Linked DNA regions of Homo sapiens: all the other regions are linked to region 3. Evidence: fine-mapped expression QTL. A gene starts in region 3. Each other region holds a variant in brackets. All regions are shown on one strand. Distances are between the middles of the regions.

Region 1 (4,198 bases), 85 kb before region 3:
CACACTGCCTGCCCCAGGAGGTGCTGGACTGGAAAGGATTGAGATGCCACTTGTATAAGATTTTTTGTCTCCCTTTTCAGACAAGTATGGGAGAGAGATGGAAGGGAGCAGAAACTGAGGAGAGAGCCCTTGTCCTGCTAATCAATATATTTGCCTGGGTAAACCTCAGGGTGTCTGTGCCCACAGGGGGCTGTGAGGTACTGCAAGCCCTATCATAAGCCCCTCAGCCAAGCCTCAGCAAAGATATGCTCTGTCCCTCCTTGGGCAACTCATGCTACCTATGGCCACAGCCTGACATCAATCCCTTCCCAGTCTTGGGCACAGGGTGGGGTTGAGGGCAGTTGGTGCTCCATAGGGCCCTGCCACCTCTGAGGTCCAATAAATCCCCTCTGGAGGCAGAGAGACCAGTCAGCAGCTCTGGCTCTACCCACCAGACCAGGAGCTCTAATGTTCACAAATTCTTGGTGGCCAGAGCTAGGAAGGCCCATTGTGATCATCTGGTCAAACTCCTTGCTTTCCCAAGTGAGAAACTGAGGCCCAGAGTGGGGAAGGAACTTGCCCAAAGTCACACAGTAAGTTATTCTCAAAGGCCAGGCAAAGAGGATAACTCCTAACACTTTCTATCTCATCTCCCATCTGGCTTCTTGCCCCAGGAACTGCCCCAGGTCTCAATCAACCCAACACCAGCTAATGCGTACTGGGTACCCATGACACTGGGAGCTATTGGAGGTCATCAACTCACCAAGAAAAGAAGGGGCTTATTTGCTACCCAGCAGCCTCCTTCCCTTCGGGTGAGGATATCTCAGTGGATGCTGCCACCTTCTGAGATAGGACCCCCTTTGACTGTGGCATGGTGGCCTCAGGCACTCTCTCCCAGTCCATAGGGTCAGTCCAGCCCTGGAGAATGGCAGGGGGAAGCAGGAGGATACTAGTGGCCTCGGCCCCCGCTGGACACCCATCCTCACTTCCTGCATGACCATGTGAAGTCCACAAGGAAGGGACATAAGGCAGACTCTCCTCTCCCCGCCCCCTGCCCCCATCTCTGAGCGCCCCCCTTCGGGAACCCTCCTCAGGAGCTTCAGCTCACTCTGCTGGGGGCTGGTGCTTGCTGAAGACCCCCTCCCTCCCTCCCTCTGCTTTTCTCTCTGTGCATATCTCTAGACAGGGCCATGCACTTGAAATACAAGGTAGCTAAGATGTCACAGCCTGACAGTACTGAAATATACTTGGGTGAGTCCACACAGCTTGCCTCAGTCTAGGTAACTGCTGGTAAGAAAGTCAGTCCAGTTGCTTTTCTCTACTCCTGGGGTCTACGAACTTTCACCAACATCACTATCAGACACAGAGGGACATCAGGTGGGGAGGAGGGTGAAGGCAGAAGGTCTTTGGTGGGTCAGAACTTCAAAAAGGCATTGAGAATCTGTCCACAGTTCTGCCCCTCCCAGCCAGAAGGAGGTGGCCTTCAACGCGGTCATCTTTTAGCTGCCAGAACTTTGTTAACCACCTGGGACCGTGGACATCTTCTCTCGTGTCTTGAGCCCTCATCCCCACCCCTCCAAGCCCTCATGCCCACCACACCGTGTCCCACATTCCCCATCCTCCCCTGTCTGCTCCCCATCTCAAGTCCAATTCCAAGGCCAGAGCCCTGGCAGCTTTTCTGGGAGACAGCATGAAAAGGAGGGGAGTGGAGATGGCAGAGATGGGGTGGAGCCAGTGCGCTGTGGTCCTGTTGGCGTGGTGATGTGGGGCCAATCCTGAGGCCAGAGGTTCATCAC[C/T]GTGATCTGGAAGCCCACGGGGCCCCCTGGTAGAAACTGGAAGAACAAAGGGGAAAAGAAACCAGAACAGGAAGAAGACGAGTAAGCATCCGAGTGCACGAGAGTGGAGCCGGAGCCACGTGGAGGCAGGGCCGGCCCGTCTATCTGTTGTTGAGCTGTGGAGAGCCGGTACCATCCTCCTCTTCCTCCTTGTCATCCTTCATGCCTTTCAGTCTCTGGCGAGCAAAGTCCTCAAATACAATGTCGTCATCACTGGTGGGAGAGACAAGGAAAATGTGGTGTGTTTGCAGGGGCAGGGAGAGTAGGCTTATCCAGAGGCCCGGCCAGATGTGACTCAGAGTATGGCTCTGGGGCCGGGGAGAACCACCCTCTCTGAGGTCTCTGGCCTCTGGGGCTGACCATGAGCAGAAAGGCCTGTCTGGCTGGCACATGTGGATGCCACCTGTGGCAGTGGGGACAGTCACATCAGGACTCGGGCCAGTCATGAAAGGGGCAGAGAGGGGCATGAATTTGACTCTTGTGCCTGAGGGCTAGAAAAGTAACCTGGTTCTTTAGGAGGTGGGGGGAGCAGTGTGGCTCTGTAGCCAGAGGAAGGACTTATTCCCACTGTGAGAGGCCAGGCCACCAGTAGTTTCACAGCATGTTCTGAATCCCCCAAGAATAGGCCCGGCAAACCCCACCCCACCACCCAGAAAACTACCCTTAGGAAGCATTCCCGTTTCTGGACAGCAAGGAGTAGTTTGGCTTAATGAAAGAGAAGACCATGAAGAACCTTTCTCCCAGAAGTGTCAGCTCAGATTCTACCTTGGGGGATCCCAGACAGAAGAAGGCTGGGGTAGGAGGATGTGAATCTAAATAGGGGGGCAGAGGACCTGTTCGTGAGGAAAGGGGAGGCTTGAGTGGGGTTTCAGGACTAGACTGCCTTTAAGAACAGCGAGTTCCCTTCTACCATGAAACATGTCCATTTAGGACCATGCAGGTGTCCACCTGGGTCCCCTGCCCAACAGGGTTCAGCCAGTGCATGGGGCATCCTCATGGGGTGACCTGAGACCCCCACACCCCAGATTTCTCCTGGGGGACAAGGGAAGATTGGCTTTGGAGCTGGAGCAAGAAAGCCACTTGGACCTGGAGGCGGTCCGCGCAGTCGGCCCAGGTCCTCCCCCTCTGGCCACTGTCCGGTGACTCGATGGCCTTTGACTGCAGGGAAATCCACATCGGTTGGTCCTCAGGAGTCAGAAGCAACAAGATCCCCAGTCCCCTGCCCACCCCACAGCCTGATTCCACTGGTTGGCGTGGGCAGGACAGGAGAGCCGAGCCCAGGGCCATGGACCAGCCCTGTGTGAGCCGAGCAGGCGCTGTGGATGGACGAACGGACTGACGGACGGACGTGCAAGGACGAGGGAGGAAGACAGACCCCACCAAGGCAGGAGGAAGAGGAACAGGCACGGAGGGTCCTTCAAGTCACATGCAGGCAAGCGGGTTGCTGAAGAGGCGAGCAGAGGTGGCTCTCAGCAGACGGGGTTAGACCAGCGGCTCCTCAGGAGTTAATAAGCATATATGCAAATGACCCCCTCCACCCCGCCCACCCGCGGCCCACCCCCGGATGTCTGCAGGCAGGGTTCAGCTTACTTTGTGTCAAGTTCTATGAGATTGGTATCTACTGGCGTCTCGTTCTCTGGAACTAAACACAGGGTGGGTGGGCAGGGTGTCCAGGGATTAGTGAGTGGATGAGCACGGGGCGAGTAAGCACAGGCCCCCACCCTGGGACAACCAGACTAACATGAGAAGGGCAAAGGATAAAGGGGAATGGAGATGGGGGAGGACTCATTCCTGGTACTGAAACACCCCAAATCATCTGAAAGGCAGGGAGGATGGCACCAGGAGGGCCCCGGATCCCCACTGCAGCCCCAGAAGAACAGAAAATCCTCTAAACTTCTGTTTCTTTTGACAGGTCTCCAACATGAATTACATTAATTCCTTGCATGCATGCCATTCACCAATTCTAAGACAATCTTTTTTATATTTTCCTTCACATTTTAACATCTCCAAATTTGGAGTGTGTCTTACCGTCGATGGCACTGCACAGTTTAACCATGGAAGTTTTTTCCTAATTGTACCTACTATTATGTTGTCTCTCTCCACTGAAAGTCTCAGATTCAATGAAATATGACCAATCTGCTATCACTTGAAAAACAGGCCAGGCCAGGCATGGTAGCTCATGCCTGTAATCCCAGCACTTTGGGAGGTTGAGGCGGGAAGATCACCTGAGGTCAGGAGTTTGAGACCAGCCTGGCCAACATGGTGAAACCCCGTCTCTACTAAAAATACAAAAATCAGCCAGGTGTGGCGGCAGCCGCCTGTAATCTCAGCTACTCGGGAGGCTGAGGCAGGAGAATCTCTTGAGCCTGGGAGGCGGAGGTTGC
Region 2 (4,198 bases), 43 kb after region 3:
TAGTAGCAAAAAGCAAAAAGAAATAGATGAACTTAATTGTAATAACATTTTATTTAACCCTATATATAAAGTGTTATTGTTTCAACATGTAATCAATATAAAATATTAATGAGACATTATATTCCTTTTTGTATTTCCAAATCTGGTGTGTATTTTATGCTTACAGCATTTTTCCATCCAGACTAGCCATTTTTATGTGCTCAAAAGCCCCATGAGGTCAGTGCCTATGGTATAAGATAATACAAATGTATAGTCTGAATAAGAGACTCTGAGTTTTTTTTTTTTTTTTTTTTTTCCTGAGACGGAGTCTTGCTCTGTCGCCCAGGCTGTAGTGCAGTGGCGCCATCTCGGCTCACTGCAACCTCCGCCTCCCAGGTTCAAGCAATTCTCCTGCCTCAGCCTCCCGAGTAGCTGAGATTACAGGTGTGTGCCACCACACTCGGCTAATTTTGTATTTTTAGTAGAGATGGGGTTTCACCATGTTGGCCAGGCTGGCCTTGAACTCCTGACCTCTGGTGATCCATCCACCTCAGCCTCCCAAAGTGCTGGGATTACAGGCGTGAGCCACAGCTCCTGGCCTGAGACTCTGAGTTTTCTATCATAGATCACATTGTAGATGAAAAGTTTTTTTTTTAAAAAAAAGAGACTCTGAGTTTTCAGAAGAAAGGATTATGCCATTTTGTGTTGTAGGAAAAGACATCCCCATTGTTTCACAAGTGGTCGCATGATCAGAAATCCATATATGTTCGTGTCTCCTTACATTTTTTTTCTTTTTTCTTTGTTTTCATTTCACAAGTAACACATGCATATATATATTTTTTTCTTTTTTGTTTTTTGAGACAGAGTCTCGCTCTGTCACCCAGGCTGGAGTGCAGAGGCACGATCTGGGCTCACTGCAACCTCCACCTCCCAGGTTCAAGCCATCCTCCCACCTCAGCCTCCTGAGTAGCTAGGACTACAGACCCACACGCCCAGCTAATTTTTGTATCTTTTTGTAGAGATGGAGTTTTGCCCAGGCCCGTCTCGAACTCCTGAGTTCAAGCAATCTGCCCACCTCAGCCTCCCCAAGTGCAGGGATTAAAGGCGTGAGCCACTGCACCCAGCCAATATATTTTAAGAAAAGTCAAGCCATAAATTGCTCCTTAACCTCCCCTAATACTGCTGCATTCCCCAGAGGTAACCTTAGTTCTCTATCAGTTGAGTATAAATCCTTCCATACATTTACATGCATAGATATGTTTTATTATATTTTACATAAATATTATAGAGTAATATTTTTCTGCATCTTGCTTTTTTTCACATAGCAGAATTACTTAATGCTTTTTCCATGCAAGTACACAGATCTATTTCTTTTTTTTTAGTGATTACATAATATTCCATAACCATTTTCCTACTTCAGGGCTTTTTGGCTGTTTATAATTTATTTTTTCACTATTACTAATAATGTTCTAATAAGCATTCTTGTAATCACCCCATGTACATTGTGTGAGTCTTTTTCTGCAGTAGATAAAAAGAAATGTATTTTCTGGGCCAAAGGGAATCTACATCTTCAATTTTAGTGGATACTGCCAAGCTGCCCTCCAAAAAGGAAGTACCAATTCACACCTCACCTACAGAGTGAGGATGTTTGTTTTATCACACTCTTCCATACACTGAATCTTATTTTTATTTTAAGTAGGGGTATTCAGAAGTGTGAGTCTTTTAAGCAATGATACAAAAGCAATAAAAAAAAAGATCTGTTCAAATTTATTTGACAGCATTCTTCTATGAATATGCAGACTCAATTTGAGACCCAGAGTGAGTCACTGAT[C/A]AATTTTAAACAAAACACTGAGAATCCAATGACATCATTGTGTCTCTCTGGGGGTGTCAGACTCTAAAGTAAGTGACAACTGAATATAGTCGCTATTGCCCTAGAACAGCAATCCCTTAACAGGTGCCATAATGGAGACCCATGTACCCTCTCTCTGTGAACAGTAGAAGCTCCTCTGTCTTCCCACCTCCCTCTGAGCCACTCTGGAGCAGTGAGGCAGGCACACCCACCCCTATTCCCACGACTTCAATTCTCTTTCTTTGCCAAGCTCATCGAGTGGGATTCAGGTAAGTTTTTCTCTCTTTCTTTCCTTTTTTTTTTTTTCCTGAGACAGAGTCTCACTCTGTTGCCCAGGCTGGAGTGCAGTGGCGCAATCATGGCTCACTGCAAACTCCACCTCCTGCGCTCAAATGAGTCTCGTGCCTCAGCCTCCTGAGTAGCTGGGACTATAGGCCTGCCATCATGCCTGACTAATTTTTGTATTTTTAGTAGAGACGGGGGTCTCACCATGTTGGCCAGGCTGGTCTCAAACTCCTGGCCTCAAGTGATCTGCCTGCCTTGGCCTCCCGAAGTGCTGGGATTACAGGCGTGAGCCACCATGCCCAGCCTTTGGATTCAGGTAAATTCAATGCTTTCTATGAGGTTCTACTGTTTTCAAACTGTTCCCAGAAACTGTGGGCTGTATTCATTTGACCAGGGCAAATCTCACCTTTGGTTTTCAGGAATTTCAGGAAAGTACCTTTGTGACGCTCAGAGGGCCCCTGCATGGCCCAAGTGTGGCCACAAAGCCATATTTTTCTCAGACACACACAGTCCTCTCTTCACAATCCCAGGGAGAATTCTGTGACTCTGTGGGCTGAACAGATAAAGCCTTGCTTTCATTTTGGATACCCAGGGAGAGATTAAGGCACTCTCACTGTCCTTGCTCTTAATTACAACTCAGTGTATCACAACTACTATTGTTTTCATAGCATTATTTTGAGTACTATATTGCCTTTTTCTTATAATAGTCTTAGACAAAGGAAGGGCAGTATGATCAAGACAAAGGCTTCCTTCATGGACTTTCTCCTGGGACTAGGGGGTGACACTCAGGCAGGCAGCCTCCTGGCATCCCTGGGGAAGGGCAGCAGATGAGCTACCACATCATCAAGAAGCATTTACCTCAGAGAACTTGCCACTGTCTGATCCTCAGCTTTGAGCCTCCAGAATTTGGTTTTCTGAACATCCCAAATAAGATACAGCATGTGCAGGCAAATTCATATTAGTTCCACGCTACGAGTAACTATCTAAAAACCAGAATCCATGCATTGATTTGTTTGCTCTTCAAACTTTGACTGACACTGGGCCTGAGCCTGTCCAGATCCAAGCTCTGAATAGAATGAATAAAATAGGCTCAGTCCAGGCTCTTACAGAACCTACAGTCTACTGAGAGAAACACATAGACCATTCCAACCCAGTGAGCTGAGTGTCACAGGAGGGGATGCACAGAACGCTATCAAAGCAATGAGAGGAGGCAAAACCCTGAAGAAGTGGTGTATTTAACATGCGGGCAGCAGGGAAGGGAAAGAGTCAGTATGAAGTGAGATTACCATGGGCAACGGGGAGAATGATTGCTAGAGCAAGGTCTTAAGGAAACAGAACTAAACTGGGACCAGAACACAATGGGAAGGCTGGCCTTGGGAAGAAAGAGGGTCTCTTTCCTAAGCCAGGAAGGAAGGAGGAAAGGATAGCCAGGGACACATGGGATTATAGGATGGGCGGGAGGCAGTTTCTGGTTGTGCAATCTATTAGGGGGGCAAGGGACTAGGAGGGAGGTTGACTATTGAAAGTGAGGAGGAGGTTCTGGGGTTCTAGCTTTGTCAAAGATTATAATAGGGACCGTGGGAGAATGTGAGGCATATGGGAATGAAAAATAGAAGCGATTCACTGAGAGGGTCTAGGAGCCTGCTGTGATTTTACTCTGATCCCAGCACGCAAGGCCAGGTGCTCTCCCTCAGCGCCCACATCTCTAGTGAATCCATAGGCAGGTGGATTTACCAGGCTCATGTTTTCAGCAACCTGGCCCCACTCTATAGACAGACCAAGGAGTTGGATGAAGAGGCACATGAAGAGCAGAGAGAGATAACAGATGGATGGGGGGTGGGGGGGGGAAGAAAAACAACTTATTCCTAGGTTCCTCATCTTGGTAAGGATTGTCGCCAAGCATTCACAACTGAAGTCAGAAACTAGGGCTTCTGCTGGGCACAGTGCTTCACGCCTGTAATCCCAGCACTTTGGGAGGCCGAGGTGGGTGGATCATCTGAGGTCAGGAGTTCGAGACCAGCCTGGCCAACATGGTGAGACCCTGTCTCTACTAAAAACACAAAAATTAGCCAGTGGTGGTGCATG
Region 3 (4,198 bases):
TCATGTCAGCAGGACAACAATGACACTTATCCCCCAAGTCACAGAGAGGTACAGAGAGACCCAAGAGAGGCTGAGTCACTCCGATCACAAGGCAGCCTAGGAAGGACAATGGAGTGGAGAATGGCTCCGACTCCCTGCTATGCCCTGCAGGAAGAAAAGCCTGACCTCATGGGTCAAGAGGGTCTTAATTTCAGGGCAGATGGATGTGGCTGGGGAAGGAGTCACATACCTTCCTACTGAGGACAGAGGCCTAGGTCACAGTGCTGGCCAGCCAGCTGCAATGGGGACTAGCCATCAAGGTTCATGCAGACACAGCATGATCTTCTGCCGTCCCCCCCAAAGCCTGGGCCTCCAGCACAGAGCAGGGCTCCCCTCCCTGGCCCATGAGGGGCCTGGCAGTGCCCTAGGGCCATCCACAGAGACATGACCAAGTGGACTCCAGCCTCCGCCCTGCCTCTGGCCCCTTTTGACCTTAGGCAAATCACATGGCCTCTAGCCCTCTGGTTCCTCTGCTAGAAAACAGGAAGAGGAAAATTAACCTCCTGGAAGAGCTGTCAGGAGGATGGCTGGAAAGTAGTTTCTAAACATTAAGAGCCTGAGTTGCCTCTGAGCCTGTTTCCTCCTCTAGAAAATGGAAATAATCTCTGCAAGCCCTTTCTCACACTGTGGAGAGAGAGTCTTAGATGGCAGTGGGTGAGAAATAGCTTTGTCAGTGGCCCTGAAAGGTGGTGCCCACCGGGGTGGTGTCTCTCTAGTCTGTTAGCTCCTTCAGGGGAGGAGTGGGCCTTGCGCATCTTTGATCCCCCACACTACGCCTAGTATACAGCAAGAGCTTAATAATAAATGGAAACGAGGAGAGGGGAGGGGAGGAAAGGAAGGAGGCAGAAGTCGGACACAAGAATAGAAGAGAAAGACAGAAAACAATGAGAAAGAGGGGGAGCCCAGGGAGAGGCTGCTGTGCCCACTTAGGGGGTGGGGAGGGCAACGGGGAAAATAGGGTGGCAACGCTGAGCCCCTGACCAGCGCTGGTCCTGTCTGAAGGGCTGCCCCCAGGGGCTGTCCTGCTCCAGCCCCCTCCTCCTTTTGTCCCAGTTTCCCCTTTCAGAGGCAGAGACTGTTTCTGAGTATTTCAGGACAGGTTCTAGGAGAACGGGAGGGGTTCTCCCAGCCCTAGGTTCAAAACAGCCCCTGGCCAGCCACTCCTCAGGAGGTCAGAGGGAAAGGGAACAGAGTAGATGGATGGGATCTATTTGGATGAAATGCGATCTGTTTTCCCCAGGCTGGGGGTGGCGGGGGGCGCTCTACCCTGTGTGATGTGTGTGTTTCCACTTCTGGCCATGTGGGGCCTGAAGCGTGTGTGTCAGCGGGCCTTGGGCTAGCAGCTCGTGCCTGTGGGGTGCCAGTCTTTGAGGGCATCAGTCTGATTGTGTCTGTGGGGGTCAGTGTTGGTGTGGCCTTGCGCTCCGCTGTGTTGGTGAGACATGCCAGCACAAGTGTGTGTGCCAGTGAGGGTGATGTGTGTGCCAGCAAGAGTGTTTGCTACAGCGAGTGCAGGTGACAGTGTGCGTATCAGTGTATGCCCACACGTGTGTGCCAGCACGAGGGTGTGCTAGAATTGGTGTGTGTTGGATTGTGAGCTGTGCATGCCAACAAGGCTGTCAGCAAGAATGTGTTGACCGAGGCGTGTATGACGGCGTGCCACTGCGTGTGATGAGCGTGTGCTAGCGGTTGCCAGTGTGTGCGCCAGCATGCCTGTGCCACGGGTTAGTGTGCCCGTGCGTGTATTGTGTGTCAACCTGCCCCCGTGCGTCTCTGCGGCTGCCGGCCAATGCTGGGTGTCAGCGAGCTGTGTGTCCGGGCCAGGAGCTGCGGCCCACATGGGGCGGCCCGGCCCTCGCCCTTTGGGTCCCCCCGCCCACGGCCCTGCCGGGGAGACCACACAGGAGACCTCGGGTGGAGGAGAGCTGGTACTAGATCCCGCGGTGGCCGCGAACGCAGAACCAGGACGCAATCGGAGCCCCCGCCCGTGTCCTCGCCGAGGTCGCCCCCACGCGCCCCCCGCCGGGCGGCCGCCCTGCACTCACCGGGTCCCTTTGTCGCCCATGGTCCGCGACGGTCGCAGGGAGGTCCGCGGCGTCAGCGCCCAGGCTGGAAAATCCCCAGCCAGCAGGAGGAGCGCGGGCCAGCCCGCTCCCGGCTCCCTGCTCCGCCTCCTCCGCTCTCCCGGCCGCCGCCGCCGCCCCCGCCCCCGGTCCCCGCCCGCCGCCCGCCGCGTCGAGCAGCGCAGCGCCCGGGCCGCGGCCAGGGGCGTGGAACCGCGCGGGGTGTGTGCGTGTGTGTATGTGTGTGTGTGTGCGCGTCTGCGTGTGCGCGCGCCGCCCAGCGAGGCAGGGCAGCGCGGCGGGACGCGTCAGGGCCCCAAGGTCGGCGTTTGTGGTGGGGGAGGGGGTCCACCCGCGTGCGAGTCCGTGTGAGAGTGTGTGTGTGTGTGTGTGGTGGTGGTGGTGGTGGTGTGGTGTATGTGAGGGCGCACGGCTGTGTGCGGGCCCTATTAGGGAGTGTATTGGTGTGGATGGAGGAGTGTGCACGTCTTTGTGCAGTTGTGCGTGTGTGCGCACGGCCGTGGGTGCGAGCGCGCTCTCCCGCGCATGCCGGGGCAGCCTTTGTGTGTGCGGGTGGTTGGAAGCCGAGGGTCTGGCGACCCCGAGGCCGCGCTCCCTGCGGCCCCTCGCTTAGCTGGAGACCCCGGGATGCCTGGCAAGGCCTTCGCCCTGTGCTCCACCCTTCCCCATTCCACCCACCCCACCCCCTTCTACTGGAGAGATAACACCCAGCCACACAACAGGGACAGGAAGAAGGGGCGGAGGGGGCAGTAGACGGCCTTGACACTGGGGAACTGAGCGGAGACCCGCGGCCAGCAGGGGCTGCAGGAGGCCGCCCAGGAAGAGGAAGCTGTGAGAAGTGAGAAGAGGCGATAAAGGAAGAGGGCAGAGCTGGCCCGCTGCTGTGACCGGGTAGCACCGTGGAAAGCGCCCATGCCCAGCTCCATGGCTCGCTGTGGGTGACCCTGTGCACTAAGCTTCTGAGAACCCATGTCCGGACCTGTAAAGTGAGGATACACTAATATCAGCCTGCAGAATTGTTAATAGGTTGAAAGAACTCGCTTGTGTTTGCTGGCCTCCCCTGAGCGCCTGCATACAGTAGGTGCCCAGTAGATGTTAGCCCACTTCTCTGCAGGCTTCTTGATGTCCTGTGAAATCTTGGCTGGGACCCTGCTTTGTCTGAGGTGCCTTCCTGCTTTGCAGGTAGTGGGAAACGGTAAGGTCTTTACCACACCCTCACTACTGAGATTTGGCTAATTATCCCGGATAGGTCCCTGATATCTAAGTATTAAGGGGAAAGTAAGCTATCATTTACTCTGATGCTGTTGTGAGTATGTAAACATCTCCTGTAATTATGCTCAGAAGCAGTTACCTATACTGTTTATATGCAGTATAATTACTATAATTATGTCCAGATTTGGCAGAGGGGCAGGGGGAGGCTGATGGGTAGGCAGGGTGGCCCACCTCTGGGCAATGTTAGGAGCTAGAGAGTATGGATGAAAGCCCAGAACCCTCCTCCCAGTCTTGGCCTCTGGGTTTCACCCTCTACAGAGGAAGAAGAGGAAGCCACCTGTTGTTTCTGCAGGGCTCAGAGATCTGGAAAGGAGCAGACTAGAATCTTCTTTGATGACAGGAGATCCCTAACCAGGATGGTGAAGCCAGGTCCTGCCACTCTCCACATCAGTTTCCCCACCTGTAAAACAGGTTTGACCAAACCATAAGATCTCCAATGGATCTCTCCATGCTGATGCCCAAAACATCTAAATATATTTATTTATTTTATTTATTTTTGAGACGAAGTCTTGCTCTGCCACCCAGGCTGGAGTACAATGGAATGATCTTGGCTCACTGCAACCTCTGCCTCCTGGGTTCAAGAAATTCTGCCACCTCAGCCTCCCCAGTAGCTGGAATTACAGCCACTGCCATCATGCCCAGCTAATTTTTGTATTTTTGTAGAGATAGGGATTCACCATGTTGGCCAGGCTGGTCTCGAACTCCTGACCTTAGGTGATCCACCCACCTTGGCCTCCCAAAGTGCTGGGATTACAGGCGTGAGCCACTGCTCCCGGTCGATTTAATTTACTTTAAATTCCAGT

Evidence for each region. PIP is the estimated chance that this variant, and not a neighbour inherited with it, causes the effect.
Region 1: its variant is the best candidate, but not a certain one, in a credible set for the expression of ARRB1 in whole blood (INTERVAL, PIP 0.74).
Region 2: its variant is the best candidate, but not a certain one, in a credible set for the expression of ARRB1 in whole blood (INTERVAL, PIP 0.55).

Annotation. Positions count from the first base shown.
Region 1 is chr11:75,264,248-75,268,445 of GRCh38, forward strand. ARRB1 (arrestin beta 1) reads right to left here. Exons shown (of 16, transcript NM_004041.5): 15 at 3,405-3,456; 16 at 1-2,027. The coding sequence ends at 1,916. Among named protein-coding and RNA genes, the nearest start is that of TPBGL, 26 kb to the left of the region's middle. RefSeq lists enhancers at 1,436-1,937, 1,938-2,437 and a silencer at 1,758-1,847. The variant C/T (reference allele first, on the strand shown) is at 1,776.
Region 2 is chr11:75,392,443-75,396,640 of GRCh38, forward strand. No RefSeq gene overlaps it. Among named protein-coding and RNA genes, the nearest start is that of RPS3, 5.0 kb to the right of the region's middle. The variant C/A (reference allele first, on the strand shown) is at 1,811.
Region 3 is chr11:75,349,504-75,353,701 of GRCh38, forward strand. It overlaps ARRB1 (arrestin beta 1), which reads right to left and starts at 2,158. Exons shown (of 16, transcript NM_004041.5): 1 at 2,085-2,158. The coding sequence starts at 2,104. RefSeq lists enhancers at 1,299-1,348, 2,411-3,366 and a silencer at 1,899-2,178.